Linked DNA regions of Homo sapiens: regions 1, 2, 3, 5, 6 and 7 are each linked to region 4. Evidence: fine-mapped expression QTL. A gene starts in region 4. Each other region holds a variant in brackets. All regions are shown on one strand. Distances are between the middles of the regions.

Evidence for each region. PIP is the estimated chance that this variant, and not a neighbour inherited with it, causes the effect. A credible set is the group of variants that fine-mapping cannot tell apart.
Region 1: its variant is the best candidate, but not a certain one, in a credible set for the expression of FRY in whole blood (TOPMed, PIP 0.82).
Region 2: its variant is the best candidate, but not a certain one, in a credible set for the expression of FRY in whole blood (INTERVAL, PIP 0.52).
Region 3: its variant is the best candidate, but not a certain one, in a credible set for the expression of FRY in sun-exposed skin (GTEx, PIP 0.86).
Region 5: its variant is the best candidate, but not a certain one, in a credible set for the expression of FRY in whole blood (INTERVAL, PIP 0.60).
Region 6: its variant is the best candidate, but not a certain one, in a credible set for the expression of FRY in whole blood (INTERVAL, PIP 0.83).
Region 7: its variant is the best candidate, but not a certain one, in a credible set for the expression of FRY in monocytes after Pam3CSK4 (Quach 2016, PIP 0.55).

What each region holds. Positions count from the first base shown.
Region 1 is chr13:32,115,705-32,120,087 of GRCh38, reverse strand. It overlaps FRY (FRY microtubule binding protein), which reads right to left. Exons shown (of 61, transcript NM_023037.3): 4 at 2,615-2,754. Among named protein-coding and RNA genes, the nearest start is that of FRY, 86 kb to the right of the region's middle. The variant T/G (reference allele first, on the strand shown) is at 2,048.
Region 2 is chr13:32,209,707-32,214,089 of GRCh38, reverse strand. FRY (FRY microtubule binding protein) reads right to left here. Exons shown (of 61, transcript NM_023037.3): 33 at 4,359-4,383; 34 at 3,056-3,224; 35 at 1,708-1,798. Among named protein-coding and RNA genes, the nearest start is that of ZAR1L, 100 kb to the left of the region's middle. RefSeq lists an enhancer at 2,751-3,950. The variant A/T (reference allele first, on the strand shown) is at 1,811.
Region 3 is chr13:31,955,221-31,959,603 of GRCh38, reverse strand. It overlaps the pseudogene EEF1DP3. Among named protein-coding and RNA genes, the nearest start is that of FRY-AS1, 74 kb to the left of the region's middle. The variant C/T (reference allele first, on the strand shown) is at 2,117.
Region 4 is chr13:32,029,331-32,033,713 of GRCh38, reverse strand. FRY (FRY microtubule binding protein) reads right to left here and starts at 1,940. Exons shown (of 61, transcript NM_023037.3): 1 at 1,849-1,940. The coding sequence starts at 1,918. FRY-AS1 (FRY antisense RNA 1) reads left to right here and starts at 2,075. Exons shown (of 4, transcript NR_103839.1): 1 at 2,075-2,263.
Region 5 is chr13:32,106,650-32,111,032 of GRCh38, reverse strand. The region is part of intron 3 of FRY (FRY microtubule binding protein); the gene reads right to left. Among named protein-coding and RNA genes, the nearest start is that of FRY, 77 kb to the right of the region's middle. The variant T/A (reference allele first, on the strand shown) is at 1,936.
Region 6 is chr13:32,202,133-32,206,515 of GRCh38, reverse strand. FRY (FRY microtubule binding protein) reads right to left here. Exons shown (of 61, transcript NM_023037.3): 31 at 3,989-4,160. Among named protein-coding and RNA genes, the nearest start is that of ZAR1L, 110 kb to the left of the region's middle. RefSeq lists a silencer at 490-784. The variant C/T (reference allele first, on the strand shown) is at 2,051.
Region 7 is chr13:32,122,556-32,126,938 of GRCh38, reverse strand. FRY (FRY microtubule binding protein) reads right to left here. Exons shown (of 61, transcript NM_023037.3): 5 at 2,563-2,653; 6 at 2,258-2,337; 7 at 2,064-2,144. Among named protein-coding and RNA genes, the nearest start is that of FRY, 93 kb to the right of the region's middle. The variant G/C (reference allele first, on the strand shown) is at 1,711.

The DNA of each region.
Region 1 (4,383 bases), 86 kb before region 4:
AGGAAGATCTTTTCAAAATAAATCAAGACTATTTTAAATCTGGAATGTTTTTCTCTTTAGTCAAAAGGGAATAAGAAGAAAATAATGTGATATTTAAGATATAAAGAAGACCTTCTGGAGTGCTCTGTAACTTTGAGCAAGTCAAATTAAGGCTGGTGGATGACAGAACGCGTTAAGAAGGAACTTGCATGTTTATCTTTCAAGGAGTAAATGTATCAACAGAGTAGGAACTCATTCTTTCAGGATCATTTATGAACAGCCCTGCCAGGAGAAAGAGCTGTGAACAAAACCATCTATCTAAAGTCCTTCAAGACCCACTGGAACTAGTAAGCGGCACTGCGAGCTGGGGGAAAGGAAAATCTATGCAGCTGCATTAAAAAGGAGGGCACTCAGAAATCAGGCTTTATATCCATTATATTATAGAATAAGGAGACAGGAAGTTGGAAAGACCAAAAGGAAGGAGAACTCCCAGAGATGGCCAGCAGCAGTAGAGAGAGTATTTTTGTGCTGGATGCTAAGGGTCTTTACAAGTGGCCAGAGGAACCTGAGAAAGTAGCAGTTCTTGGCAGAAAAAAAAATGTAGACCTTTGATTCTATTTTATTTAATAAGCCAAATTATGTTTTCAAATCAAAGTAAGACATATACATTTCTAATAATGAATTCAACTTTATTGCTGGTTTGCAGTCTAACTGCCAGGAGCCAGAGACATTTGACAGATTTATTTGGCAGTCCAAATGCTGATACTGTACTAATCTCAGAAATCACAACCCAATGTGCATCCCTGACATCTATTTTCAGTAGTTTATGCTCCTCCTTAAAGTCCCCCCAACCTTTTTTTCCTAGTAGCAGAAACTCACATTTAGCTACACCATACCCTAGAGAGCTTCATTCATTTGGCTGTTTTCTAAGCACATTTTCTCTCTTATTTTAAAAATTCAAGCATTAACTAAAATGCTACTAAGTCAAATTTTACTGTCCTGATTCTTTATCTGATCTCAGTACTTACTCTGATCTCCTGAAAATAATCAGTAACACAATTTTAAAAACTATAATTTTTAATCCATAAAGAAATCAATTCATGAAAAATCTAATTTCAGCAACTAAATTCTGACAAAACAGAGGAACAAAACTAAAACTCAATTCAACTCACTAAAAACTGTCCCACTCCCTGCCCCTGGGAAGGTTTAATATCTGTTCATAAGACAACATGTAATATGGAAAAAATAATAAAATGATCCTTTTAATTTCTTAATCACATGGTCTGAACCATTTTTCAGATAAACAATTTAAATTCTATTTTTAAAACCTGATAAATTAAAAAAATATTCATGAGGAGAGGCTGCTAATGGGTACAGGATTTGGGGGTGATAAAAATGTTCTGAAATTAGAGTGGTAATGGTTGTACAACCCTGTAAATATACTAAAAACATTGAATTATATACTTTAAAAGGGTGAATTTTATGGCATCTGAGTTATATCTAAAAATTCTAAAAATTTCCTTCTTCACTAAAAAAAATTCAATACGAAAAAGTTATTAATCTCTCTCCCAAACAAAATTATATGATTAAATCTTGCATAAATTCAAGCACATTATAAAAGCAGATTACAAATTTTGTTGAAGTGTAACATGGTAATGTTACAATTCTTCTATTTCAAAAGAAGTCTTTTGAAACAGTATTAGGACTTTCAAGAAAAATGAGAGAAATAAATCATTCACAAAAAGTAGTTAATGTCTGATTTTCTGGTTGATTAATTTCAGTTTACAGACTTTAAAAGTATTTTTTTAATTGGAATAATCCATTCATGTGGAGAAATCTAACTACTTTTTAAAATAATCTTTTATTTTTTTTAAAAAAGGTAAGTGTATTAATCTTTCTTATATTCACTGCCTTGCTATAGGTTGACTAAACATATGAAATTATATGTGCTTACCTAAAATTTGGGGAGGACACACATTAATGAGAATCTTAAGTTTTACAGATGCTGATATGCTCCTGGAGCAGCAAGTTCCATTTTTCAAACCCACAGGAAGAAGGGAACAGAGAA[T/G]AAATAAACAAAATACTCAGCTGGAAGGAGGAGTTGGAGATGGTGTCACCTAACTTCCTTGTTTTGCTCACAAGGAGGCTGAGGTACAGAGAGGCGGGGAGCTGCCCAAAGTCACATGGCTAAATAGTGGCAGCGCCAGGACTACCACTAACGTCCAGTCCAGCGTCCTTCCCACTACAGTACACTGAGCACTCAAGGTTACTGGAACGAGGACTAAAATATCTTGGCATGTCACGCAAGGCCTGAAGTCAGCATTCTGCTTTGGGTGTAGACTCAGTGGGAGAGGGCAGAGGAAAGAAGCTGGCAAGAAAGTGACCTGTGGCCCTTCACACCTGTCTCCACCAAAGTTGAAATAAAGCTGTGTATGAATTTTCAACCCGTGACGGCTGGCAGTGACTCGGTGCTCCAAATGGGTTACCTGCTACAGACACAGGGCCCCTGCAGCACCTGCTAGGCATCCTTGTGAAGAGTCAGGAAGACCCAATTGCCTTGTAACTCTAATTTTGATTTATGTTTCCTGAAAACAAAACAAAATAAAACCATGATCCTTACACAAAAGAAATGTACCTTTTTGATTTATTGCTTGTTCTTGGTCTGTATTCATGTGATTCATCCTCAATGCCATTTTGCCTTTTATACCAGTCAAATAATGTACGTAGAATGGAAGGCAGGCAGTACTCAGAAAGGGAGCTCATTGAGCTGATGACCTATGGAGGAAAATGCAGGTGATTAGAACACTGGTAGCACTGCCAATTACTGAGAAACTTTTTATTTCACAAGTAACCCCAAGCACTACTCACTAAAATATTTTCTTCCGTATCACAGTCCTTTCTTTCATAATCTTTATTAGTACATTCCCAAGAGCCTGTCTCTTAATGGTGACAAATGTTCCCCATATAAGAATAATTTTGTAGTTCAAGAAAGTTAATTACTTTGACTCCCTTTCATTCTAGAAATCAGATGTTAATTGCATACAGGTTATTCATGGAACTGCAAAGATATTATGTTCCCACGTTCATCTGCCTAAAGTAGATGAATGCTTCTTCCGTCCTAAAAATGTTTGTTGTATAAATATATGAATACAGTTACATTAATAATTTACATGATATAAACAAATCTGCCCCCATCACCAAATAACCTAAGTGGTAATAATAATGTATGGTTTTGGACAATAATTATTCATTCATTAATTTGAAGTATGCCCCAAATTAGACTCAAAATATAAATGGGCAGCAATAATTTACCCCCTGTTACATTAAAGGCAAACTTCTCCCTTTTTCTTTAAAGAACAAATGTGCCTTTGGTAGAATTGTTATTCTAATTTCCTTATCTGGAAAGAGTCCTGATTTTTTAACTGATTACTATAAAAAAACACTTCAATCCATATCTCATTACTCTATGCAAAAGTTTCCACAAAATGCCTCATAAATTTAAGTATAAAACCTAAAAATATAAAACTCCAAGAAAACATAGGATAAAACCTTTGTGACTTTGTATTAGGCAAGGATTTCTTAGGTACGGCCCCATAAGCAAAGTCTATGATAAAATTTCATATAATGAAACTCTTCAAAACCAAAAACTTCTGCTTTTAGAAGAATTCAGTTAAGATCGTGATAAGGGACAAACCACAGAGTGGGAGAAAATATTTGCGAAACACATGTCTGACTAAGGCCTTGTCTCCAGAATATGTAAAACTACAATGAAATGGGTTTTAACTAGCTAATCAACAAACTGTATAAGCAAATTATAACGCCCAGAGTTGATGAGCAGTGATAAAGTGGATATATTCATATACCGCTGATAGAAAAAAACAGGCATAACATCTCTGGAAATACATATCAAGAACCTAATAAAAATCATTCCCAAGAAGGCCACTCTTAGAATTTATCTCAAGTCCATAATTAAAGATAAGTAAGAAGGTGCAGGACAGCATTATTTATTATAGCAAAAGGATGGAAACAACATAAATGTCCAACTACATGTAAATGCTTAATAAGATGTGGAATTTGGTGTGGACTATTTTTGAAACCATTAAAATCATATTTTAATATAAATATAAAAATATGACATGAAAATGTTCATGATATGGTAAATGAAAAAAATGAAGAATCATTTAATTGGTATGATTCCAATTTGTTAGAGATACTATGTAAGTATACATATGCAGAAAACAGGACCAGAAGGAAACATACTAACATATAGAGTGCATGTGAAAACCAGGGGTTCTTAGGTCAGATCACTAGAGGGAGAAGGAGGCTGGGAATTTAAGAGAAATGAAGATGAGAGTTTACCTGGGACTATTTTAGAAAGGGTAGAAATTTGAGATGAGACCCAAG
Region 2 (4,383 bases), 180 kb before region 4:
GCATATTCATAGACATATGTTTGCACATATATGTGAATATGATCAATCAATGTTATAGGTAGATAAATATCAGTATAAAAGAATCTGACATGTATGAATATGTGTGATATATATGGGTAGATAATTGCATCAGGCTTTCCAATGACCAGCAGAGATATGGTGACAGAGCAGGAGTAAGAGCTAAACAAGAAAATCTCTCTTGAAGATGTTCTGTGATCTTGATATTAGAGAGATTACTGGCTTCTTAAGTTCAAAGGCACCACTAAAACCTCTAGGCAGGACACTCAGAACTCTGGCCCTAAACAGGCCTTTGTAATGAGATGGTAATACATGGAGATCTATCATCTTTCTACCTCAAATAAAATTCAGACAGGAAACTCAGACAAAACAATAAATGATCAAGAATGTTATAGTCTAGTGAGAAAGTAAAAATATCTTTAGAGAAATACTGTGACTTTTATCATGAGGTAGTTTTCCAAAGAAGGTAATATTAATAGCAAATATAGATTTTAAAAAGTAACATGCTAATTAATAATCTTGTACCTTCACTAATATGTGGAATATAAAAACCTTTATTCATTCCTGAGAAAGAAATAAAAGGCTTTATTAGAGAACTTCAAAGGACAAGGTCTATAATTCGTGATCTGCTGGGTTTGGGCTTTTAGTCTGAAGGGAAGCCCGTATGGATGAGCATCTGCCTGAAGGTAACACAGCTGCCCAGTGATGCAGTGAGGAATCTGGCTGGTGCCTGAATTAGGGAAGGAGCCTTCAGAGCCCCAAGGGCAGGCAGCCCTGTGCCAGGTCATCTCCACGCCAGCCCCTACTGTGCCCCAATACACATGATGAAATCCTCAGGATGCTCAGGAAGCACTGTGGGCTTACTGGGGCATTTTGGGCTAAGTGAGTTATTTTCACCACTGGATCCCCTAAATTACCTTTAATATGAATTCATGAGCATCTCATCCTTTTTACTAATTTCTTAAGTAAAAGGGCTCCCTCATTACCTTTCACTATAAAATGCTCAGCTGAAGCACCGTGAGGATCATCCTAATTTTCATTTTTTTTAAATTGAGTTTTGTTTTTCTCTCCTGGTTTGTCTCCCTGCTCTTCACAATCAACTGCAGGAAAGAGTGACTCTGATTTGACTACTGATGAGTAGTTCATAGGCAAGGCAATAAGAAGGCTGAGATATAGGGGAAATATTATTATTAAAGAGCTAATGTGGAGGGAACGGAGACTTTTTTAGCAGGAAAAGATAGTGTTTTGGTTAACCAAGACAGCACAAAGCAAAAGTAAAATAATAATAATCATGTTTCATAGAACTCATCTCAAGATGACTACTCTATCCCTAAGAAATTATTCAACTATCAGATTCGAAAATTTCACATGGCAATTCTAATTCCAGATGGTCTGTGTCCATTAGCAGAACAACTCATGGTTTTTACTAAGCCCTGAGGTATGCGAAATTCCACCACCACCAGAACAACACCCTTCTTAATCTTTCTCTTCTCTGACTTTGCACAGAAATAACTGTTATCTTTAGGGATATACTGAGTAGAGTTGGAAAGTAAGTCTGAGTTTCTAAAAACAAAGAAGGATTTTTATGTACGTGTAAAATTTATGAAACTCCACAAACCTGTATTGATGTCTATGTATAGATTATTGCAGAACATTACACTGGATATTAAGTCAAATTTGTGTACCAACCTTTCATCAGATTCTTTCAATATCTTGTTCTCCTCAGCATCTGGGAAATTTTCCTGGCCAGCAACCACTGTATTGCTGCTAGAGGTGGTTCCTGTAGATGGGA[A/T]TGGAAGAAAAACACTTATAAAAAGATGCAAGCTGAGGGGTCAAGCTCAAGTCTCAAGTAATTCCAGGGAAAGATTTCCTGTAAATTCTTATGTTTGGAAGATTTTTTACATCTTCTGCACAATCTCAGACATTCTAAACAATCTTCCAAGCCCACACCACTGAAATGAGAGAATCGTAGACATCTGTTATGGTCAAACCAAATTCCTTAACTCTCGTAAAGCAAGCCTACATTCTTGAAACCTCTTCTTCCTGGCCACTTAGGCAATGAGCTTATTTATAGTGGCTGGCCCTGCTGTTGGCTGCTTTAGTATTTCTGGGTCCAGGAGTTACTAAACTAATGCTAGTGAAGTAAGGCCAAGCACCTAGCACTTCTGATTGCTGTGCTACTGCTTCCCTGTAAGAACACTGCTCTGGTGGCAGGGTGTAGGGCGAACAGAGGAGACAGTAGACTCAGGGAGGAGAGGAATTGGAAGGCAGTTACTGCATGAGGTCAGCAGAAGGGAGGCAGACTTCAAGGAATTTGAGGAGGATGGCATATATTTCATGAAAGGTTGCTGAGACACCAATTAACCAAAAGTGATAATACTTTTGGGGGGAATTTTAATCAACGCTGAAGGAATATAGCCAAGGGAGGGTCCAGATACAAGAAGGGGGATCCAGAAATGAGATTCCTGAGTGACTGCAATGTCCTGGCTGGGATCGGCTGAAATACAAAGTTCTGTGATGGAGGATGCTTGAGCCACAGATTCTCAGTCATCTTTACAAGATCATTTCATTAACCCTATGATCCCTAAGAAACTCAGTTATTCTCTTTTTTTTGAGATACAGTCTTGCTCTGTCGCCCAAGCTGGAGTATAGTGGTGCAATCTTGGCTCACTGCCACCTCTGCCTCGTGGGTTCAAGTGATTCTCCTCCTGCAGCCTCCTGAGGAGCTGGGAGTACTGGCGCGTGCCACCACATCCGGCTAAGTTTTTGTATTTTTAGTAGAGACGGGGTTTTGTCACGTTGGCCAGGCTGGTCTTGAACTCCTGACTTCAGCCTCAGCCTCCCAAAGTGCTGGGATTACAGGCGTGAGTCACCACGCCCAGCCCATGTCTCAGTTATTCTTAAGCCATCTCTTAACTGAATGCACACACAGGAATAAGAAAAAAGTAACAAACACATTCTCATATCCTTTCAGGAATCTACATGAAGGAAACCCCAGGGATCTGTGACCAGGTGTCTGCCCGGTTGCTCTTCTTACCTGAGGCTGCTGCGGAAGCCTTGCTACTGGCCGTGAAGCGGTAGAAGGGCGGGTTGTCACAATGCTGGACGATGGGGTTCACGGGCTCTGTCTGCTGCAGCTCAAAGAGAAGCTCTTCCATGGTTTGAATGGTGTTGTTACGGCACAAGTATATTGCCACTTTTTTAATCTGAGAAGGAAAAAAGAAAACAAGGGATGTTTCACAGAGCCTAGTCCACAGGAACACTAGGCCAGTAAACCTCTCATTTAGATAAGTTGTCATCATGCAGGAGCTGTCACCGTGATAGCTAATCTTTGTGCTATCCTAGGATGGACCAAGGACTTGGATTAAAATTCACCTCTCTTCATCGGCACGTCTGATAACAGTGTGTTCTTAAAGCCCTTACCTTTTCTAATGGCTAAGTTTTTAAAAGTTACTTTTGAGGTACGTGAATTCTATCTAAACTGAAAACTTGCCATCAAAGTTCTCATCTTCAGAAATAATTTTATTTATACAAACCCTGGGGAAAAACTGCTAGTTATTTTTGTTTAAAAAGGAATCCAGTCCCCTGCTATTCTCTTCTCCCCAAGAAACAAATGAGTTTTAGCTGTTTTTATGGTTTTAAATTTTAAAAATAACTCTGGATTAAAGCTCCACATTATTGCAGGCCTCATAGTCCAACCTGAGCCCTGCAAGCTGCAGTGAGGCTTATGTGGACTCAAGGCAGCAGGAAGACATAAACCTGTCACAAAAACAACCAGCACAGAAATGCCAATTGAGTTTGGGTTTTAAAAATGCTGTCATTCTGTTGATCCTATCACTTTTAAATACCAACTGTAAATATCAGACATTTCAGAAGGATTTCTCCATGCTTACTTCTCTCTTCTACCACTTGAATTTGAAGAGAAAAACCTGCATACTCTGCTTTCTTATTCTGTTTCAAGAGCATCAAGATGTAAACATGAAACATTCTTATTAGTAATAATACAACACTTTACTTAGTGTCTCTTACATAGTAGGTCCAATGTTTATAGAAGGCAGCTTTCAGTAACTGCTAGAAAAATATCCACCTGCTATATCAATAGGTTTCTGCGTCCCAAGGCTCAGAGTAAGGAGATGACAGAGGCATCACTAGCACACATAGCCTGTGTCTAGGGGGCAGAAGGGAACTTTTATGTAATATCTGGATGAGCTCACAGGAGATTCATGTGACTAACTGGACATTTCTATTTTAGCTGGAGCAAAGAGCACATTCTGACTTGCAAATTGCACATGGGAGTCCCTGCAGGAATAATCACTCTTGAAGGGCTGAGAGACACTTACATAGGGTAGGAGAACTGTGTCGCTG
Region 3 (4,383 bases), 74 kb after region 4:
TTTCTTTCAGATCCACAATTCATTGATTCTTTGATTCTCCACTGTGCTCACTGCCAAGTGAGTTATTTTCTTGTCTAAGTTCTTCAACAGCATAACCACCATGCACTTTTTGAAGCTTGATCTATAAACAAAAAATAGTAAATCCCCAAGAATCAATCTTGGCACATCTTATGTAAGATTAATAATTAGGAGGGAAAATAAGAAGGAAACTTTTGAGGAAATGCCATAGGCTTTCCAAGATGCCCTATCATTGATTAAAACAACAACAACAACAAACTGAAATAGCTCATTGATGTCCAGGCTTGGTAAGATCCAAGCTTGAAGAATCTATGTGACTTAAAAAAAAAACATGTAATTCTATAATTCTGATAATTAAAATATTTTAAAAGTGGAGTATACATCTCATCTAATCATATTCCTTAAAAGCTGACTACAGAAATGTTGCCACTGGGATGAAATTCATGGCATTTCAAATGTTATAACTTTTATATAAAGTCCTAAACGATACCATAGTTCTATTATGCAGCATTTAAATAGATGTTATGTGCCACTCCATTCAGCAATGAGTAACATGCAGCAATGTGGCACACTGAGGTTAGAATTGCAGAGTACAAGAGATTAGGGGTTCATAAACATTCCAGTTCGGGGTTGGGGCAAAATTCTAGTCAGCTGGTTAATGTGCATTTTGTGTACAACTTTTATGTATTTATCTATTTCATAGCATTTGTGAATCCCAAACTTCCACATTTAAAAGAAACAAAATCATAAATTGCTGCTTTGCTATAGCTCCTGAAAGAATGTAGTGAATTTTTGAGCAAATTTTTACCTACTTCTACACACCGTATTTTCACACATAATGAAAGTAACTCACAATGCTGGACTTCTATCTGAACATCAAAATGGCATATATTGGCATAATGTCTACCTCTGCTGCCCAACTACAACAGAGCTAGATCCTAACTTAATTTTAGAGCAATAACAGGTAGACTGCCCTAGGGAGGCCTTTCAAGGAGAAGTGCAACAGAAGGAGTAGCCAGCAACTCTTAAAAGCCTCAATCTCTCTCTCCCTGTCTCGTTCTCCACTTCTACCCCAGCCAACATCCCTATAAAACCTCCAAAGGCAGCAGTTGGTTAGAGATAAAAGAGTCTGTTGTTGTTTTGTGGGGAGAATGAAACAGAAACCTTCGATTCTTACTATCTCATTTCATTCAATCTTCTGTTAATTCATCATTATTTTCAATGTTTGGGAACTTTCAAAGAACATTTTATTTTATTTTACTTTATTCATTTATTTTTTGAAATGAAGTCTTGCTCTGTCACCCAGGCTGGAGTGCAGTGGCACAGTCTTGGCTCACTGCAACCTCTGCCTCGCGAGTTCAAGCAATTCTCCTGCCTCTGCCTCTCAAGTGGCTGGGGATTACAGGTGCCTGCCTCCATGCCCAGCTAATTTTTGTATTTTTAGTAGGGACAAGGTTTTGCCATGTTTGCCAGGCTGGTCTTGAACTCCTGACCTCAGGTGATCAGCCTACCTTGGCCTCCCAAAGTGCTGGGATTACATGTGTGAGCCACCGTGCCCATCCCAAAGAACCTTTTAAAGAAGGAACCCTTACTCATCAAATCGGCAGTGACTCACTCATACTTCCCTTCCTTTTAACCATCTAGGTGACATTTAAGGAACATCCTCATTTCCCACAGGCAAGCACCAAACCCAGTTTCTTATCTGCAGTTTATCAGTTATCTAGCCCTGTGTGTATCAATCAACTTTTCAAAATAAAAACTACTTTACACTTTACCTGCTGGAAGATATGTCTGTGGATATAGGTGCCACATTACTTTATTTCTGCTGTTTTTTTCTCCTCCTTCCTCTTCTTCCTTCTTTTCTTTTCTTTCTCTTTCTTTTCTTTCTCCTTCCTTCCTTCTCTCTCTCTCCCTTCCCCTTCCCCTTCCCCCTTCCCCCCTCTTCTCCTCCTCCTCCTCCTCCTTCTTCTTCTTCTTCTCTCTCTCTCTCTGCTAAGCATGTTATTTCTGGCATGGAGTTTTCTTTCTCTCCTTCCACCACCCCTATTTGTGCAGATTTTGAGTTTTCATTCTCAGTAGCCTCTTGAAGGAAATCATT[C/T]TTGCCCATTTCCCTTCCTCCCACACACCTGTTTGTGCATGTGGGAATGCCTGGTGTGGAAATCAGGAAGTGATATATTGCCAATAAAATGGCTTCTATCATTACTATAAATATTAACTTAAGCATAGTTAAACATACAGTTTTCAGTCACCTACTTTTTGTTGAAGAACTGAACAGCTTGAGTATATTTGAAACAGCAAATTTCTTTCTAATTTAGCAGAAAATAAGAAAAAATACAAGGCCATAACTTTGCAATGTTTATAGTTTTCCAAAACTGCCTTGCCTTTTGTTTAAATAACTATATAGTGATTCATGGCATCCTTATTATAAATAATCACATTTCGAGAATATTTCTTTTGAGAAGTTTCCAGATTGCTATTTGTTTCATATGGATGTGATTCAGTAACAAAAGAAAATATGTAGCTATAGTTTACCCTAATTCTGAGTAATGAAGTTTCTGTGCAGCACTCAGTATCACCGATGATATTCATTAACTCTTCTTCATTAAACATTTCTATATTTTATAATATCATCTGTATTGTTGAGAGCTTTTATTTTTAAAAACCTTGAAATGTTTCTCATTCATCCAACTTACTCTAATCAGCTGCCTCTAACAGGCACTGTTACCATTTTAAAAAATTCATTGTTGCATGTTCTCACTCACCTGTGGGAGCCCCCCCAAAATTTGAGCTAATGAAAGCAGAAAGTAGGATTGGGGGTATCAGAGGTTGGGAAGGGCAAGGGGGAGGGAAGGATGGGGACAGGTTGGTCTACAGATATAAAATTACAGCTAGATAGGAGAAATGAGTTCTGGTGTTCTGTAGCACTGTAGGGTGAATGTGGTTAATTATAACTTATTGTACATTCTCATAAAGCCAAAGCTGGGTGTGGTGGCTCAGGCCTGTAATCCCAGCACTTTGGGAGGCCAAGGCGGGTGGATCACCTGAGGTCAGGAGTTCGAGACCAGCCTGACCAATATGGTGAAACCCCATCTCTACCAAAAATACAAAAATTACCTGGGTGTGGTGGCGTGCACCTGTAATCCCAGCTACTTGGGAGGCAGAGGCAGGAGAATCACTTGAACCCAGAAGGCGGAGGTTGCAGTAAGCCCAGATCGCGTCATTGCACTCCAGCCTGAGTGATAAGAATGAAACTCCATCTCAAAAAAAAAAAAAAAAAAAAAAGCTAGAAGAGAGAATTCTAAATGTTTGCAACACAGAGAAATGATAAATGTTTGAGGTGATGGATATGCTAACTACCCTGATTTGATCAGTACTCATTGTATATATGTATGGAAATATTACTCTCTATCCCATAAATATGTACAATTATTATATGTCAACTAAAAATAAAAGGAAAAAAAAAAGATGGTTGAGAGGCACAGAGCGAGTCCTAATATTTTACCCTATGGTGTGAGCAGGATTTAGAACAAAGACCGTAATATGGGTGTGTTTGGACCTCTGCACTCTGCAGTTCTGGTTTTTACAGTTATGAGTGGGGACACAGAGGCACTTTGCATATGATGAAACTCAAATTACAGGTTCCTCTCTTGCCAGAGAATACACTAAACTTCGAGGGTGGTAGTGGTTGGGTGGGTACGTGGAAGGGGACTGGATTGCAAGGGGAAGCAACAGAGGTCTGCCAGGCATAGCTGCCTCCTGCTTCTTACACGTGAAACTTAGAATAGTTTACAAATAAACTTTGATCTTTGAAGATCTTTTCCACTTTCTTTAAGTCAGTAGTTCTTGACCAGGGGATGGGACAACATCAGATGAACCTGGGAAAATGTTCACACTGCAGTTAGATGCCTGGCCCAGTGTAGACTTGGTAAATCACATCTCTTGGCCAGTGCCTGTGGATTTTGGAAAACCTCCTCCAGAAATTCAGATTTGCACAATCGTTTGAAAACAACAGCCCTAAATTGGTAAGTTAATATTCCTTTTGTTATGCAGGGGCTCCAATGTACTCTCAAAAAACCAGAAACTGTTCCTGAGTTGGGACTTGAGGAGGGATATTTGACTTATGACCGTTTGCCACTTAGCTGTTTTTTAGAGTGTGGAGAACAGACATAAATTACAAAAAGCATACAAACCCCCAACTAAGAAACCCTGATGTGGAGGACACCTAAGGCCCCTGGTACTTTCCTGGAGGAAAATACATCGTTGCCAATTAGGGATTCTCTACCAGATGACATAGTGTCAGTATTGCCATTAGCTGGTGCAATAGGGAAGCTTAAATACTGATGTCAATGAAGCAGGAAAACCCAA
Region 4 (4,383 bases):
TGTCTTATTCACCTTGTGTAGCCCCACAGCCTGGCACATAGTAGGTATTCAATAAATATTTGCTGAATGAATTGGAAGAATTCAAAATTGTATCACAGATATTCTCAAAGTAGAAATGAACAGTCATTTTGAATCATTTCCTGAAGTATGTATGTGGGGAGAGGAGTTTAGGAAGGGTGGAGAGAATATATACTTTATCTAGAGTGATTTGAAAATAGACAAGGGGAGAGAAATTTTTAAAAGAAATCCCATTGGCCTCAGTATTGTCACAACATAATTTTCTATTTAATGATGCAATGACAAAAATTGATGGAAGAAAACAGTCTGGTCTTGGAATAATCAAATATGTTTAAAAACCACGTACTGATGTCAACTCAAAAGTGAGTTTTTTCAGTTATTGGAAAACTGCTCCATAAAGAACACTGTATGTCAAATTCTTTTCATTAATCAAAGAGCAGATAGACAAAGGAAGATTCATCCTTGAGTGTAAAGTATTATAAAAATAATGAGTCCAAGTTAAATGATTTATAGCTATGACAAGTAAAGAATGCTGTTTGGGCAACAGTATTACTCCCAAATGGCTTCCCACTTGTAGAAAAACAGCTTCAGACAAGCCCCATAGTGTATACAGTGGTGCAAAATGACCTGGAAAAAATGGTTTCTATGGATATCATTTAGAGATGCACATCCCTGAATACCTTAAGGCTGAAGGTACTTTAGCTCTTTTCCTCAAAGCAATTGCAGCACAGGTTCTCCTGCCCAGGTTTTGTTTATATAAGAACAATCTTGGCCACAGGTCATTTGTGTAGGAGACAATTAATCACTAGCTCTTTGAGCACAGGTAGGTTAATCAGTATGCACATAATACAATATTAAAATTTTCACGGGGAAAAAATTTTTTTATTTAAAACAATAAAGCATCAGTAATACCTGCTGATCTTTTATCCAAAGCAAGTACAAAGGCTGTTAGTGAAATAGAGAAGACTTTCTTTTTAAACAGTTCGGAAAATACAAGGCATCATTGATCACCTGAAGGCCTCATTTTAATTTGATTCCAGATCCACGGCAGCTTAGAGGTTGTCTTTTTGAAATAGCGTATTGCTAAAATCCTTATGTAGGTCAGAAATGGAACTTCAGGAGCCATCATATTCTGCTATCCTAATAAATAATTAGGGTCAGAACCTCACTTGTTTATGTTTCAAAAAAGCACAATATTTGGACTATAGCAAACATCAGGATTTTTAAAAATTCAAATATTAAATGGCATTCAGAACATCATCCACATGGAAGAGGGAGAGATGAAATAAATCTGCAGATGCCTCTATATACAAAAAGGATGTCCTAGGTTTTGGACTATTAAATACTTTTCTTTCTTCAGACAATACCCTAAAAAAACAATTACAAAGTACTCTGAAACCCTGCCACACCCCTTTGATTAAATCACACTTCACAAAATATTTAGAGAAAGCCTGAACAAATCAAATAAACATCAAGGCAGGAAATGCAGCCAGGAATGCCTGATCCTGAGCTCCCCCAGAGTCTGAAGGGCTGCCTCACTTGAAAATTTAATCAAACACAATCTACTGTAATTCCATTGCAGCCTTTGCACTTAAGGAAAGCTAGTTCAGTCTCTGACATTTTGATTTTCACAGCAGATGGGAGCAAAAAAAGAAAGAAAGAAAGAAAGAAAAAGAAAGAAAGAAAGAAAGAAAGAGAAAAGAAAAGAAAAGAAAAAAAGAAAAACTTCCGCGGCTCACAAACATATGTGTCCAGTTGAGATTTTCTGTCTCCAGCCTTATGCAACATCCAGCAAACAAACAAACAAAAAGGTTATTTTCTATTACTCACTATTACTCCAGGATTTCAGTAAATATTTGATACTGATCTCAAAGAAGCCCGAATCCTGCTGGCTGGCCATGTCTGCGGCATACAAAGAGGCTGGGAGGACGGGCAGCGGCCGGGAGCAGGTACCGGGCGTGATGCGCCTGTCACAGGTTGTGATGTCAGCGCGGGGTCAGGCGCCCAGAGGCAGCTCTGCGGATCCACCTCCGGCTCCGGCCGGGAGTGCTCATCTAAAGGACACGGCGGAGCAGAGAGAGATGCTCGGCCGCTCCTCCTCCTCCGGGTCCAGGACTTGCTTCTTATTTGCTGGACGCTGATCTCCCTGCAGCCCTCGGAGGCGGCGGCCGCGCTGCTTTCATTTCGGGGCTGTCATCACCAGAAACGCCGGCTGCCGGCCGCCCACCAGCTCGGCTCCAGCCAGGTACGCAACCGAGGAAGACCCCACCTGAACTGGGATCGGCTTTCTTCTGGGAGGGAGGGTTTCTAGGCCGGCCTCCCTGACGCGGTGCAGGCAGCCTCCGGCCCACACGGCCGCCGCGGGGCTAAGGGATGGGCCGGGAGCGCCGCCCCCTGCCCCTGCCCACTGTCTCAACCTGAGCCGCGGCTCAGTCTCCGCCTAGGCTGCGGGAGGAATTTCCCAGCTTCTGCGGATCCTCTCTCTTCAGCAAGGCTTCCCGTGAGCGGCCCGGGTGTGCTCTGGCTGCTGCTTCCCCTTGTGTCTGTCCCTGAAATAAACACAACTGCAGCACGCTGCGGTAAGCAAAGCTGCAGCCTTGCATCTGGTTGCAGCGACGTTTTGAAAAACCCCATCCGTCAGCCTCGTTGCAGTAAAGAGACTCAACAAGAGGACGCTTGTCTGGGCTTTTTCTTCCCTGCCTTCCACACGCATGGTGGTATCTGCATTTTTACTTTTCCCTCCCAGAAATGCAGTCTTTTCAAGGGGCATCGGAGCCCGAACGTGTGCACTCTAAGGGGACAGTACACACTGCTTAGTTGGCTTGTTTTTGTAATGTCACACACTCCACAATGGATCTTATTCTCAAACCTCTCATTTCTAAGACTCACTAAGCCCAGTGAAGCTTATTTTATTTGTATGAAAAGGATAAGAAGCAAAAGCATTAGATTCCTTGCTCTACAATGGCTCTTGATTTCATGAATTCTTGATATCAGGTGTCCTGATTTTGGTTAGCTTTGTTTCACATTATCATTTAGCTTGACCAGGGGATTAAATAAGAGTATTATATTTTAATAATGACAGGTTATGTTGGAAGAGGTGGGATTTGGCCAACTATCTCATAAACCACAGGATCCTTCCCAAGTCCCAGTACATTCATGATTAATGTTGTCTAAAAAACAGAAAAAAGTAATAAACCATGTTAATAAGTATTTAACATAGCAAATGTTGGGCTAACTCCCCAAATCAACACACAAACAGGACTTCCTAGATTAACAGTTCATTTTAAAAATGGAAGGGAAAGACTACAATGTACTTTTATTGTTAGGACAAAGAATTTTTAAAATTCAACACTAAATAAAACTTCTAGAACTATGTTCTGAAAGGCCCTAAGATACTTCATCAATACAATTAGTTTTTCAAACTCATTACACTTACCCAAATGGCAAGCACTCAATCACTCAGATTTCCAACTCCACTTATACACTTTATTCTGATGAAATCTCTCACCAGATTGACTTCTTTTTAATTCATGTGCATACTAGAGTTGCTGAACTGATTTTATCACTTGTACTTTGAATGTATGGATTCTAGGTAAAATAAGACCCAAAGGTTTTACCTTGAAACAATTATTATATCTGAAAATAAATTTCATACCTACGCCCATCTGATGCTTGCCAAGACTCAGATGGCAGTGAATGAACAGGTAGGCTGCACAGTGCCCTGCGATTAACGATGGCATGGGCTCTCAAGGCAGGGCCCCATGTTCGCTCCTGGCACCAGCCCTTACTAGCTTTGAGCCCCAAAGTAAGCTATTAACTTTGCTAAGCCTTCGTTTCCTCATCTGTAAAATGGGGTTGTACCTTCTTCCTATAGTTGTTGGAAACAATAAATAACACTATGTATGAAAGGGGCTCAGCATAGTATCTTGCCCATAGTTAACACTTCATTAAATTTTAGCTACATTGATTTTTTTTTTTTTTTTTTTTTTGAGACAATCTCACTCTGTCGCCTGGGCTGGAATGCAGTGGTGCAATCTTGGCTCACTGCAACCTCTGCCTCCCGGGTTCAAGCGATTCTCCTGCCTCAGCCTTCTGAGTAGCTGGGGTGACAGGCATGCGCCACCATGCCCGGCTAATTTTTGTATTTTTAGTAGAAATAGGGTTTCACAGTGTTGGCTGGGGTGATCTTGAACTCCTGACCTCAGGTGATCCACCTGCCTTGGTCTCCCAAAGTACAGACATGAGCCACTGCGCCTGGCCCATTCATTCTTATTATGAATCCTTAGTGACTCTAGAATAGAACTTTTTTTTAAAAAGCTAAATACTTTTTTTTCTTTACTCTTTATGTGGTTTAAAAGATATATT
Region 5 (4,383 bases), 77 kb before region 4:
GATTTCTTCCCCAGAATCCTATGATGTTGCCCTGTCTTAATTAGCTTCCTGTACTTTCTCTTATCTTCTATGCTGTTCCTCATGAAATGCCAAAGCATAGTAGGACAATTCATCTGTGACAATAAGGATCTGAATTCTGATTGCTCTGACACATGCTCCTTTGCAGAGTAATCAGACTTTATTATGCAAAGAGAAAATAACTTCCACTTACTGTATGAGACTGTTTTAAAAGTTGAAATAATACTTCAAACAGAAAAACATTGTACAGCATACAATTTTTGGTATTATTTAACACATTGTATGTTTATATCATCATTAAATACTACATAAGCAAAGGTCTAAAAGCCAAGGGCAGAGCAAATCAACAAGCAAGCATTTGCATGTAGCTGGAAGGTATGTGAAAGAATATTCGTTTCTGACTTCATTCATCAGCTAGAATTTTCATTTCTGAGAGTAACTGTATCTAGTGGCTGTCATTAATACAATCTCCAACAGGTAAGGGTCACAAACTCCCTCAAGTAAGAGTTATTTTGGAGTGTTGCTTTTTCACTTTTAAAAATGGGCTAATTTGATCATCACCCACCCAGGCCCACGCTCATCACGGTTGGATGAGTAGTTCTTTGTTGTTGGCTATTGTTTCTTTGGAGAATCTGAAATAAAATGCTGTGGACTTTTATTGTAAAAAGATGTCTGTACAACGAAGAAAACCACTTGAAGGTAAAATGGTGAGCTCACATGCCTTTCATTCATAGATGCTCTCCACAGATGCCAGATAAGGAACTCATCACTGGTTCCATGATTATGTTCTAGCACGCTGCTTTGTTATTTAGGTGCTACCAATCATAATCAGCCACTATAACTTAGCTTGTGAAAGTAAGCTTCAAAGTATTTAACATTAGTCCATCGACTATGAAAATGCACTCTACACATCCATGAATAGCCATTGCAGCAAAAGCCTTCCTCAAAGCCACTTCCAGTGAGCTCCTAGCTGCTAACCTCCAGTTCTTCCTGGTCTGCATCTTCCGTGATGTCCCTGCATCAGCTGCTGTGATGGGCCATCCCTGCCCTAGAGAGCACTATCTCTAGACTTCTCCCACTTTCCAAACTACCCTTTTTCTAGCCATTCTTTTGTAGATCCCACCTCCTGATACTAAACTCTTTATGACGTTCTTTACTTATGTGCTCTAGTCTCTATCAGTGTTTGTTGAGTGACCACATAATAAACTGAACCCGTTATTTTTCTTGAGATATTTCACCTTCCCTGAAAACTCAGTATGCATAACGGATTTACAGCCTTCTCTTGTCTTCTGCCCCCAAGTATAGTTTCCTCTGCTTGAAGAGCTCATAGCCCATAGAAAATAATCTAGACCCCTCAGCACGGCTCCTACTACCCACTGCAATGGGCTCAGTCCACCTTTCTACCCTCATTCCCAGCACTCTGCTCTTTTCACCTTCAACTTCTCCTTTGTCTGTGAGACCCCTGCTGCCTGGCATACCCTGGCCCAATTTGTTCATCTGGATAAAAGGCTTATTTTAAATGTCACTGCTCCTTGGTTGCTTCTTGTAGCACACACTTGTGTACCTTCCTAGCATCATTAACTCCTCCTTTATCTGAGTTCCTAGAGCACTTGATACAACCTCTATTATAGCGTTTACATTGCCACTTTATTTGTGTAGATAACTGTCTTCCTTCTGGGATTGAGAATTCCTGGAGGACAGGGCTCTGTCTTATTCATTTTTGTGACTTCAGCACCTTGCACAGATCCTAGTATGTGTCAGGCACTCATTGTTTGTTTAATTGAATGGAAATCGCTCCAAATCATGCTTAAAACTACAGTTATCCTTTGTTTCTCCTTTTCTCAACCAATGTTTATCCTTTTTATATAATTTTGCTTATAATCGTCCTTTCTTATAGTCTCACTGCCTCCATTTTAG[T/A]TTAGGCCCCTTTAGCTTAGAATCTTTATCAATGCCATGTTCCCCAAATGCCTTAGGTCTCTTCATTACTGCCTTCATGACCATTGTCTCCTTAAGGCTAACATCAAGTTGACAACTTGATACTGGTATGCATACAGCCCCATCCCACTGGCATTAAGATCTTCCACAATCTGATCCCTTTCTACCTCTGCCGCCTGATCTCTTTTTTAACTTCTGCCAGACTGTAGGAAATGTTTGTTTACAATGGAAAACTAAAGCATACCTCTCAAGGGGTTATCTGATTCTGAGTCTATGGGGGCTCTATACCTGTCAATGCCTTTGAGCTATTTTAAAATTGTATAAATGGTAGATACCTGATAGCAATGCAAAATAATTCTTGTCTATAGACATGAAAAACTGTCCAGTGAAGGTTCAGTGGACTTCCCTCCCCCACATGAAAGAAGCCAGTTTTGCCTCTGATTGCATTCATTTCAATGATGATTTATAAATGTGTCTGTTTTTTGGAATTTAACTGGTTGTAACATCCTGCACTAATAACAAGTTAAATAAAATGTTTAATACAGGTTCATTTTATATCTCTATGTGAGTCATATTTTTGCCTGTTTTTGAAGATTATCCTTTAACAATACATGCCTTCTGCATCAACTAAATTGATCAATTTCTAGGTTCCTCAAAGATAACTGATAGTGTCATTTTTCTGTTCAGGACCTTTGCATAAAATGTTCCTTTCTTCTGAAATTTCCTATCTTCCTCATCATCAACACTCAGCAAATCCTATCGATTCTACTGCTTTAGGCACCTGATAAATCTTGTTCTCATCTAGAAGGCATTTTCTAGCTAGGCAACTGGTCCTGAGGCATGTGTCTTCTGTCCCTGAAGTCTCAGCATATTTACTGTCCACACCATTCATGTGGCACTTCTTACACATGCAGGCCTATGTCAAGGCTGGTTGTGCACTGCCTGACCCTCTTCCAGATCTGGAGCTCCTGGAATGTGAAACACATGCCTGGGGACCACATTCTTACATCTCTTTGTCTCATATAAAACTTTGTGTGTATGTATATACATATACACATGCACAGTAAGTGTTTGCTAAATTACTTTATTACCAGAACGATTTTTAGTTCCTTTTACTCGCTAAGCCCTGACAGTTACTATAGTAATTTAAAATAAATAGTGATAGTATATACATCTTCAAATGCTGTTGGAATTCTCTTCTGCCTTTATTGATTCTTGTTACTGGTATGACTTTATCACTAGCATGGACCAGAAGGGATAGCCCATACTGCTCTGAACCTCTGCTGCCTGCTCCATGAAGGCCTCCCTGGCTCCTCAGGGCAGGGCGAAGTTTGCTCTCCTGAGGCTCACACCCGCTTTAGCTTACTTACTAGTCTGCGGTTATCATTTATCTGATTGTAGTTCTATTTTTCTCTCCAACGAGACTCCAGTGGTGGGGCCTCTAGGGCAGGCACTATGCTTCCTTCCTGTTTGTTTCCATGAGTTGGCATAATGCTTGGCACATGGTTGCCAGGAGGTAGGTGCTGTATAACAATGGAAAAAAACTCATATTCCTGAAGTTTGTGAAAAGTGAAATTCTGGAAATGAGGGCACAAATTCCTAGTTCTCCAATGTGTAAAGCATTCACTAGTATATTTCTCCTACTAACACTGAGCTTTAAAAATCCTGTTTAGACATCTTGTCATTTATAAAATCTTTTTTCCAGGTTTCTTCTTTATTTTTATTTTTTATTTTTGAGACAGAGTCCCACTCTGGAGTGCAGTGGTGCAATCTCAGCTCACTGCAACCTCTGCCTCCCAGGTTCAAGCGATTCTCCTGCCTCAGCCTCCCAAGTAGCTGGGATTACAGGCACGTGCCACCACGTCTGGCTAATTTTTGTATTTTTAGTAGAGATGGGGTTTTGCCATGTTGGCCAGGCTGGTCTCCAACTCTTGAGCTCGGGTGATCCACCCGCCTCGGCCTCCCAAAGTGTTGGGATTATAGGCGTGAGCCATTACGCCAGGCCCTTCCAGGTTTATTCTTACAGAGTTGGAGTGTAATTAGGTTAAATTTAGAAATACTAAACCAATAAAATTATGAGTGTAAAAATATAAAATATAAAAGAAAACATGAAGTTTTAGCTTCTAAATATATATGTATATTTAAGTTCAAACTGGAAAACTGGCAAATTTGAGGAGAAACCCACAGTGGGAAAGAAAGAGGTACAGAACTGTAAATAGTTCTACTTTGGGCATTTTGGCTAAATATCTAGTGGATACATCTAGCTGTTACCCAATAACAGGTTTTCTTCTTTTTCTTTTCTTCTTCCTTAGGTATAAAATACCCCATTTTTAGACGGACACATAGTCACCCAAAGTAAAATTTCTCCACCTTTCTTATAGCTAGATGTGGCCATGTGATTGACATCTGGCTAATTGGATATAAGTAGAA
Region 6 (4,383 bases), 170 kb before region 4:
GCCTCTCTTTCTACATTCTTTCTCAGCCAGGCCACTGTGATCTGGCTTCTGCCACTACCTCCCTGCAGAAACTACTGACAGTTACCAATGAATCTCGAAACTCAAGAGAGTCATGTTCAGGTCTTCTCTTCTGGGATCTCTCTACTGCATCGGAGGCTGTGCACTGCTCACTCTCTCCTTCTAAATCTCTTTTTCCTTTATGTTTCCATGAAACCCTTCTCCTGAGTGTTCTCCCTCCATTCCTTCTCACCCTTCTGCTCTTCCTCGGACCAGTCTGCAAAAGTGGGGGTGTCCAGGCCCTTTCTTCCACTCTGTGCTCTCTCCATTCCTGATCTCATCCATGCCCGTGGCTCTAATCCCTTCCATCCTTCTGTGAGTTGCTAGCACTGACCTCCCTCAGTTCAGGCTCATCCATACAGGAGGAAGTCCAGCAGAGGCATACACTCAACATCCTGGGCTGGGCTCCTGATCTCTGCCTTGCACCAAACCTTCCCCTCTCCCTGTATTGGGTTTCTAGGAGGGTTATCATCACTGACCTCCCTGATATCACAGTAGGCATTCTCTTCTGTGCCTCTGCTTGGCAGCTTTTCGCTCTGGTTTCTCCCCTCCAGTCTCATTGGGCTGTCTTTGTTCAGGCCCTTATCATTTATTATTTCCTCCTTGGACTATTGCCATTGTTTCTTAACTATCCTCCTCTCTCCAGACTGGATGTTCACTAATCCACCCTCCACACTGCAACCAGGCTTTTAAAAATGCATTCTAATCTTGATACTCCCTCTTCTCGTTTGCAACTCATCAGTGGCTTTCAAAACCCCAGCAGCTTGCTTGGATGCTCTCTCTGTTTACAGAGCTCTGAAGGGGGATTCAAAAAGCACATATGGAAGATTGCTGGCCTACAAACCTTGTAGTGTACACAAGGCCTTCCAAGATAATGATTTTGGCCTCTGCATCTGCCCACGACCATCTCTAGCTTTTCCTGTTCCTGCACGTTATGTTACCTAAACTGACCTCTATATAATCCCCCAATTACATCATGCTAGTTTATAACTCTAAGCTGATGCATATGCAATGGTCTCTTGCTCTGTAATGTCTATCAACTACTTGTCTGCTATGCAAATTTCTACTCCTTTCAAACTACAGCTTAGACATCAACTTCTCTCTGGGAATTCTTTTCTGATATTCCTGGCCCAATAATTGATTAGTCCTTCAGCTACTGTCTAATACATTGAGCATTTTTCTTTTTTAAAAAATTGCATTTGCTATACTGTATCAAAATCATTTGATCGCACACCTTTTTTTTTTTTTTTTTTTTTGAGACAGAGTCTCGCTCTGTCGCTCAGGCTGGAGTGCAGTAGCACAATCTCGGCTAACTGCAACCTCTGCTTCTTGGGTTCAAGTAATTTTTGTGCCTCAGCCTCCTGAGTAGCTGGGACTACAGGCATGTGCCACCATGCCCAGCTAATTTTTGTATTTTTAGTAGAGACAGGGTTTCGCCATGTTGGCCAGGCTGGTCTCGAACTCCTGGCCTCAAGTGGTCCACCTGCCTCAGCCTCCCAGGGTGCTGGGATACAGGCATAAGCCACTGTGCTTGGCTTGATTGCATATCTATCTTTTCTGCTAGACTATGAACGTTTGATGGGAGAGACTTTTATTTCCCTCTGTATTTCTGAAACCCAAGCACAGTGCCTAGCATGTAGGCAGCAAACAAATCTTGGGTGAAGTGCATAAAAATAAATTTTAGTTTTGCAAGAAGAGAATTAATTTACTAAAAAGGCTTTTATTGGGTCTCTCCACTGTTTCTGGTATTACACAAAGAAGTGACTAACTCTGCCTCAGGTATATGGAGAGGTCTGCACAGTTGAGGTGGATGTTAAGTTAGATCTTCTGGAAAGTTGAAGTTAGGAAGAAGGGGTGAGGGCCATTCAACAGCATGTACAGAAGCAAAGATTTACAAGAGGACCTGGAATGTTGGTCAAAGATTCAGTAGGACTGGAGTAGAGGATTCTTGAATGAAAAGGTAGAAAGCAAGTTTAGAAAAGGAGCTTTTTTT[C/T]CCCTGCCCCTTGGCTGAGTTCTAATTTTATAGCAATGGCTTTGGAGGAAGACAGATCTAGATTTAATTCTGACTTGGTTGCTTCCTAGCTATATGGTCTCGAGCAAATTATTTAACATCTCTAAACCTTAGTTTCTCATCTCATCTGTAAAACAATGATGATGGTGGTGGTGGTAGTTGTGATAATTCCATGCCAGGACTGGGCCAGCTGCTTGGTTTTCATTAGATCACTTTAATCTTCACATCCTATGGGGTAGTCATTACTATTACAGATAAGGAATGTAATTTAGAGGTTCTGTGACTTGCCCACAGTCAAACAACTAGTGAAAGGTTGCCTGACTCCAAAGCCTCTGTTCTAACCACTGTACTATACCAGGGTTTATAAATATTAAGTGATAAATGCAATGCACATAAAGTACCTAGCATGGAGGCTGGTACCTACTATCCACTCACTAAATGTAGGCTGTTATCAGCTATTTTTAGGACAACTGGGCAGAGAAGTTTGAGTTAAGAAGTGCTGGACATATTTGGCTTTGCATAGTGGATGGACTGCCACATGGAAGATAAACTGTAGTTAGGTAATGCAGAGGCAGGGAAGGACTGAGGAAGATCTGGACAAAGCAGTGGTGAGGTGGTGATAGAGATGGAAAAACAGGATGAATTCAAGAGGCCAAAGTCTGTCTCTTGGCAAAGTGCTACGTAAGCTTAGGCAAGAAGTTAGGTGACAAATGCATTTTTTTTTTGAGACAGAGTCTCACTCTGTTGCCTAGGCTGGAGTGGAATGGCATGATCTCGGCTCACTGCAATCGCTGCCTCCCGGGTTCAAGTGATTCTCCTACCTCAGCCTCCTGAGTAGCTGGGACTAGAGGCGTGGGCCACCATGCCCAGCTAATTTTTGTCTTTTTTGTAGAGATGGGGTTTCACCATGTTAGCCAGGCTGGTCTCAAACTCCTGACCTCAGGTGATTAGCCCTCCTCGGTCTCCAGTGTTGGGATTACGGGTGTGAGCCACCACGCCCGGCCTGACAAATGCAATTCTTTAGCAATTCTGCATTACCTAACTGCAGTTTATCCTCCATGTGGCAGTCCATCCACTATGCAAAGCCAAATTCACAAAAACTATTTATGAAGATTGTAAAGAATATGCAAAAATTCAAACTTTCAACAACTTACATATGTAGCAAAATACAAGCTACAAAACACCACCACTATCACAACCACCAAACAACTTGCAGCAATTATATGTGTTATAAATTACACTGTTCATATTTAGCTTTTGTGGGATATTAGTTTCTTTGGGAAATTTATATATATAATGTATGCAGAAGTTAGTATTATTAATCTAAGCACCTTGCATTTGTCATATGTATGTTTATGCCTACACTGCTTTAGATAAAGAAATTTTTTTCATTTAACAATTATAGAATTTACTTTCATATGTAACTGGATCTAGCCCACAGTAATTCTGACCTACAAACTTAGCATCACTAATTATCACTCTAAGATTTTTTTTTTTTTTTGAGACTGTCTCACTCTGTTGCCCAGGTTGGGGTACGGTGGCGCAATCTCGGCTCACTGCAAACTCTGCCTCCTGGGTTCAAGCGATTCTCCTGCCTAGCCTCCTAAGTAGCTGGGATTACAGGCACACACCACCAGACCTGGCTAATTTTTGTATTTTTAGTAGTGACAGGGTTTCACCATGTTGGCCAGGCTGGTCTCAAACTCCTGATTCAAGTGATCTGCCTGCCTTGGCCTCCCAAAGTGCTGGGATTACAGGAATGCGTGGCATCGTGCCTGGTCATAACTCTAAAATTAAACTAGAATTTAAAAAGAAAAATTACTTAGAGCAAAGAAATGATCACATGTCATTATTAGAAATGATCACATACGTCATTATTAGAAATGATCACATATGTCATTATTGACTATTGCCTGGTACCTGAGAAGAGGGGGAGTGTGAGCTCAGGGTACATCCTGGCCAGCTCACATGACAAGAGGGCAAGTGACACGCTGTAGAGGGGTGGCAGCGGGCCGTGTGTTCCATAGAGAATACTTCCCGGTCTTTGCTCAGCGACTTTCTTTGAGTATACAAAAAGCTTTGCTTCAAGGATCTATAAAGATGTAGGAAAGTAAAAAAGTAGTATGAAAAGCATTAGCTGGATATCTCATGAGCATTTGTATTTAACAAAGGTTAGAAGTAACAAAATTAATTAATTCCCATTTAAAAATAGAATTAAAGGTAAAACATCAGTTTAATTAGTATGTTTACAAAAGATTATATAGTTACTTTCTCACTCTTCATAGCCACAAATGATATGCAGAAATAAACAAAGG
Region 7 (4,383 bases), 93 kb before region 4:
CAGGAAAATATTTAATAAGCATTATCATTGGGAATGAGACATATAATCTAAAATTAGAATTATTACATTACTCAACTTTTTTAAAAAAGATAATCACACTATACCAGATAAGCAAACATTCTTTCTCCCACCCTGGGAATGAAGGAAACAGTACTTTTCTAAGGTAACAATAAAGTAATGGTCCTGGTGTACTTATGAGAAAGAAGTAATGTCATAATTCATGGTATGATACTAGTTTAAGTTTATACCATCTATCCATCAAGGTTAACTACATATAGACTAGTTGAGAACACATCAAGGGCTATTGGAGTCTGTGTTTACTGCAAGAGCAGACTGGCCAAACGGTTCACTAGAGACTGGAAAGTACTGGAGCACTGTCCAAATGGAGGCATTTCTTACACCCTACTACCGCAGAATAGGGACAAATACTGACATCACGAAAATAAAAAAAGCCACCATTGGCAAGCAAACACTGACTTGGTGGACCATAAATCTTACCTAAAATGGAAATTCCTACAAGCTTAGAATATTGCTCAGTTATGACAGTGTTTCTCAACTTATTCACAACCAACTCAGAATCACAGAGCTAAGGAAGGTCATTTGACAGTAACCAATATTATTGTTATGCATAATTCACAAAAACTAAGGAAAACACAAAGTCATTTTTGGATACTGAAGTTTCCAAATGACAGCTGAAAGTTTATGTTGAGATTTTCAGGGTTTGACAAATCAGCAAGTATACATGTTAATACCTCATTTTTCCCAATCTTTTCTAGAAATGAGGTAGATACACGATTTGCTGGATAACTACAGCTTGTCCATTTAAAATGCTAATGCTTTCATTACTCAATTGCAATGGAAATATCTCCAAAATGCATTACACTTTTTTCTTAATGATTCATGAACCACAATTATTTTAATAGGCTATAAAACTACAATATAGCCTCATGCAAAATGGCCCAGATCACTCTATTGTTTAATTCTTATGTATGCTTTGGCCAGTTTCTTTCCTTTCTGTTGCCACCAGCGGTTGAGCTTTATTTCTCAATGGCATCAGTTTATCATCCTCTGGAAGTTCCCGTTCCTCCTTCGAACACTGATGTGTTATATATTAAAAAAAATATAGTCAGGATGAGTAGATAAACTGGATTAGATTAAATAAATTATGCCAAGGAGTTAAGGGGTTCTATTTCCTGCATTCTGGTCTATGTTTTGGCCAGGTAAGATTGCTAAGTGCTTTTTAAAATTTTTGTTTTTTTGATAAATTGTGTAATTTCCATGCTACTACGTTACGAAATTCAATCCCTTGAAGATAAAAATCTCTTTCTGAGGAAGGATTGCATTTCACAAGGATTGGAGCATCACTGTTGCTTTAAGCTGACCTCCTGGCATGAATTCACATTATGTCTCTGGTTCATTTTGCCTAACTTAGGCATTCGGGATCTTGCCTGATTTGCCTCAGGGTTGGACAAAATGAAGCTGGGTAAGTAGGGTGTGACATCACTTTTGGAAGAGGTATATTGTTGCTAATAGTCTAACGCAATTTTGTTCTTGCCTGCTAAGTAGTGCTATGGGGCCAGATAAATTTAGCAATGAGAATTTCCCCCCTGACTTGTTTCCATGACAGAGTCTGGGACATTTTTAGCTCAGCTGAATTAAGTAAGGTCTATAGTAAAGGGGACATTCTAGAATGGAATTTTCCCACTGATA[G/C]ATGATATATTGTAACCACCCACTCATGGGCTAGAGAAAACAGAACTTTCAAAAGTGATAAACTTCCTTGGAATATTTAGGCAGAGAGAAATGTAATCTGGTCACCCCATTTCTTTGATGCAACAGTATGAAACCCATGGACTCTAGGTAGGATCTGGCCCAAGTGCCAAGTAAAAAAGATAATTGATACCTGTCTTGGAAGAGCTTTCTATTCAGTTTCAGAGATGGGGCACACATGGCAAAGAGCCCTACCTAGTTCCTTGTAAGCTCAACCCCAACTTCCCTAAATTAGGGCTGGAAGGACAGTGAAAGCACGCACGTTCTCATGGTAAAGGGTTCTGGCATTCACTTACTTGGCTTGTGCCAACACTCCAATGACTTCTGCATACAGGTCTGCCACAATATGCATATTGCCAGTGTTGGGACCAAGGTACCTAAGTAGGGTATAATTAGACAAGTTAGGGATCCCTGGTCATCGGAAAAAAGCAAACCACTGATTTAGTTTTAAACACCAACTTCAACATTCTAAGGTGAGAAATCATCTTACCCTTCTTTGTATTTAAAGTGCTTGAAAGCCAAGTTAATAACATCATGTATTAAACTGTCTATTACAGGATGAAGTGGAATCTGAAAAAAAAAGGTGGTTCTTAACTCAGAAGGGAATATTAAAGAACAAATCGGTACAGTACTTCCAATAACTATATATGACAATCAATAGCAATCAATAAACATAAGTCATATAACCCAGTATTTGGAATTCAGAAATAATTTTAAAAACTTAGACTTTTACAACCTAAGTAGTTTTTAGATCAATAAATATTATCTAAAAGTAACAATAAATTAATCACCTACCTGTTTCAAAACTTCTATTAATACTAAAGAAAAAATAAAATCAATGGCGAGGTCCCGTCTTTCCATTAAATAATCTCGCTGTTGTTCATCGCTGTAAAATTTAAAATATTTACATTAAAGCACACTGAAGGTATTCTCAGAGTAATACAATTCATAAAAAATCTAGGACTCCTCCCTAATAGACTGCAAAACCCATTTTTAAAATTATATAATTGCACTGGTAGATACATGCTAACGTTGGCCGGGCGGAGTGGCTCATGCCTGTAATCCCAGCACTTTGGGAGGCCGAGGCGGGCAGATTACCTGAGGTCAGGAGTTTGAGAACAGCTTGGCCCACATGGTGAAACCCCGTCCCTGCTAAAAATACAAAAATTAGCCAGGTGGCATGGTAGCCCATGCCTGTAATCCCAGCTACTTGAGAGGCTGAAGCAGGAGAATCGTCTGAACCCGGGAGGCGGACGGAGGTTGCAGTAAGCTGAGATCATGCCACTGCACTCCAGCCTGGGAGGCAGAGCGAGACTCCATCTCAAAACAACAACAACAACAACAACAACAAAACATGCTAATTCTCTGTGTGCTGCAGTGGACAAACATTGGATTTGAAGTCGGAATATTTGACTTCAAATTTAAAATTTTCAATGATGTTAACTTGAGTAGTTATTTGTGCGTCTATCACCTCACCTTGTGGTCTTTTCTAAGGTAGCTTTCAACTCTGCAATTCTACCACCTGTAAAATGTGATAACAACTTGAGACAGGCTACCATACCAGAGGTGGACATTGAAAGATCTCGTGAAAGGAGCTAAACAATGTAAGGAAACAAGAAGGAAATAATATGATCACCAATTTGAGCAGGACTGCAGGGGTGAAGAGGATCGGCATTACCACTTTTCTTTTCTTTCCCTGTCCCTTTTCTCTTACATTTTTTGCCACTTGAGACTTAGTGAAAGGAGGAATGAAGAAGTGAAGGGGTGGTGAGAGAGAAGAGTAAAAGGCAGAAGGAAGAAGAGGTAGGAGAAGCAAAGCAGTCATTTGTGCTCATTTAAAAGTTAGAAGCACGTGGTTGTGGTGACTATGGCCTTATAGTATAATTTGAAATCAGGTAGTGTGATGCCTCCAGATTTGTTCTTTTTGCTTAGTCATGCTTTGGCTATGTGGGCTCTTTTTTGGTTCCATATGAATTTTAGAATTGCTTTTCCTAATTCTGTGAAGAATGACGGTGGTATTTTGATGGGGATTGCATTGAATTAGTAGATTGCTTTTGGCAGTGTGGTCATTTTCACAATATTGATTCTACCTATCCTTGAGCATGGGATATGTTTCCATTTGTTTGTGTTGTCTGTGATTTCTTTCAGCAGTGTTTTGTAGTTTTCCTTGTAGAGGTCTTTCGACTCCTTGGTTAGGTATATTCCTAAGTATTTTATTTTATTTTTTGCAGCTATTGTAAAAGGGGTTGAGTTATTGATTTGATTCTCCGCTTAGTCGTTGTTAGTATATAGAAGAGCTACTGATTTGTGTACATTAATCTTGTATCTGGAAACTTTGCTGAATTCTTTTATCAGTCCTAGGAGCTTTCTGGAGGAGTCCTTAGGGTTTTCAAGGGAAATGATCATATTGTCAGCAAACAGTGACAGTTTGACTTCTTCTTTACTTATATGGATGCCCTTTATTTCTTTCTCTTGTCTGATTGCTTTGGCTAGGCCTTCTAGTACTATGTTAAAGAAGAGTGCTGACAGTAGGTATCCTTGTCTTGTTCCAGTTCTCAGAGGGAATGCTTTCAACTTTTCCCCATTCAGTATTATGTTGGCTGTGGGTTTGTCGTA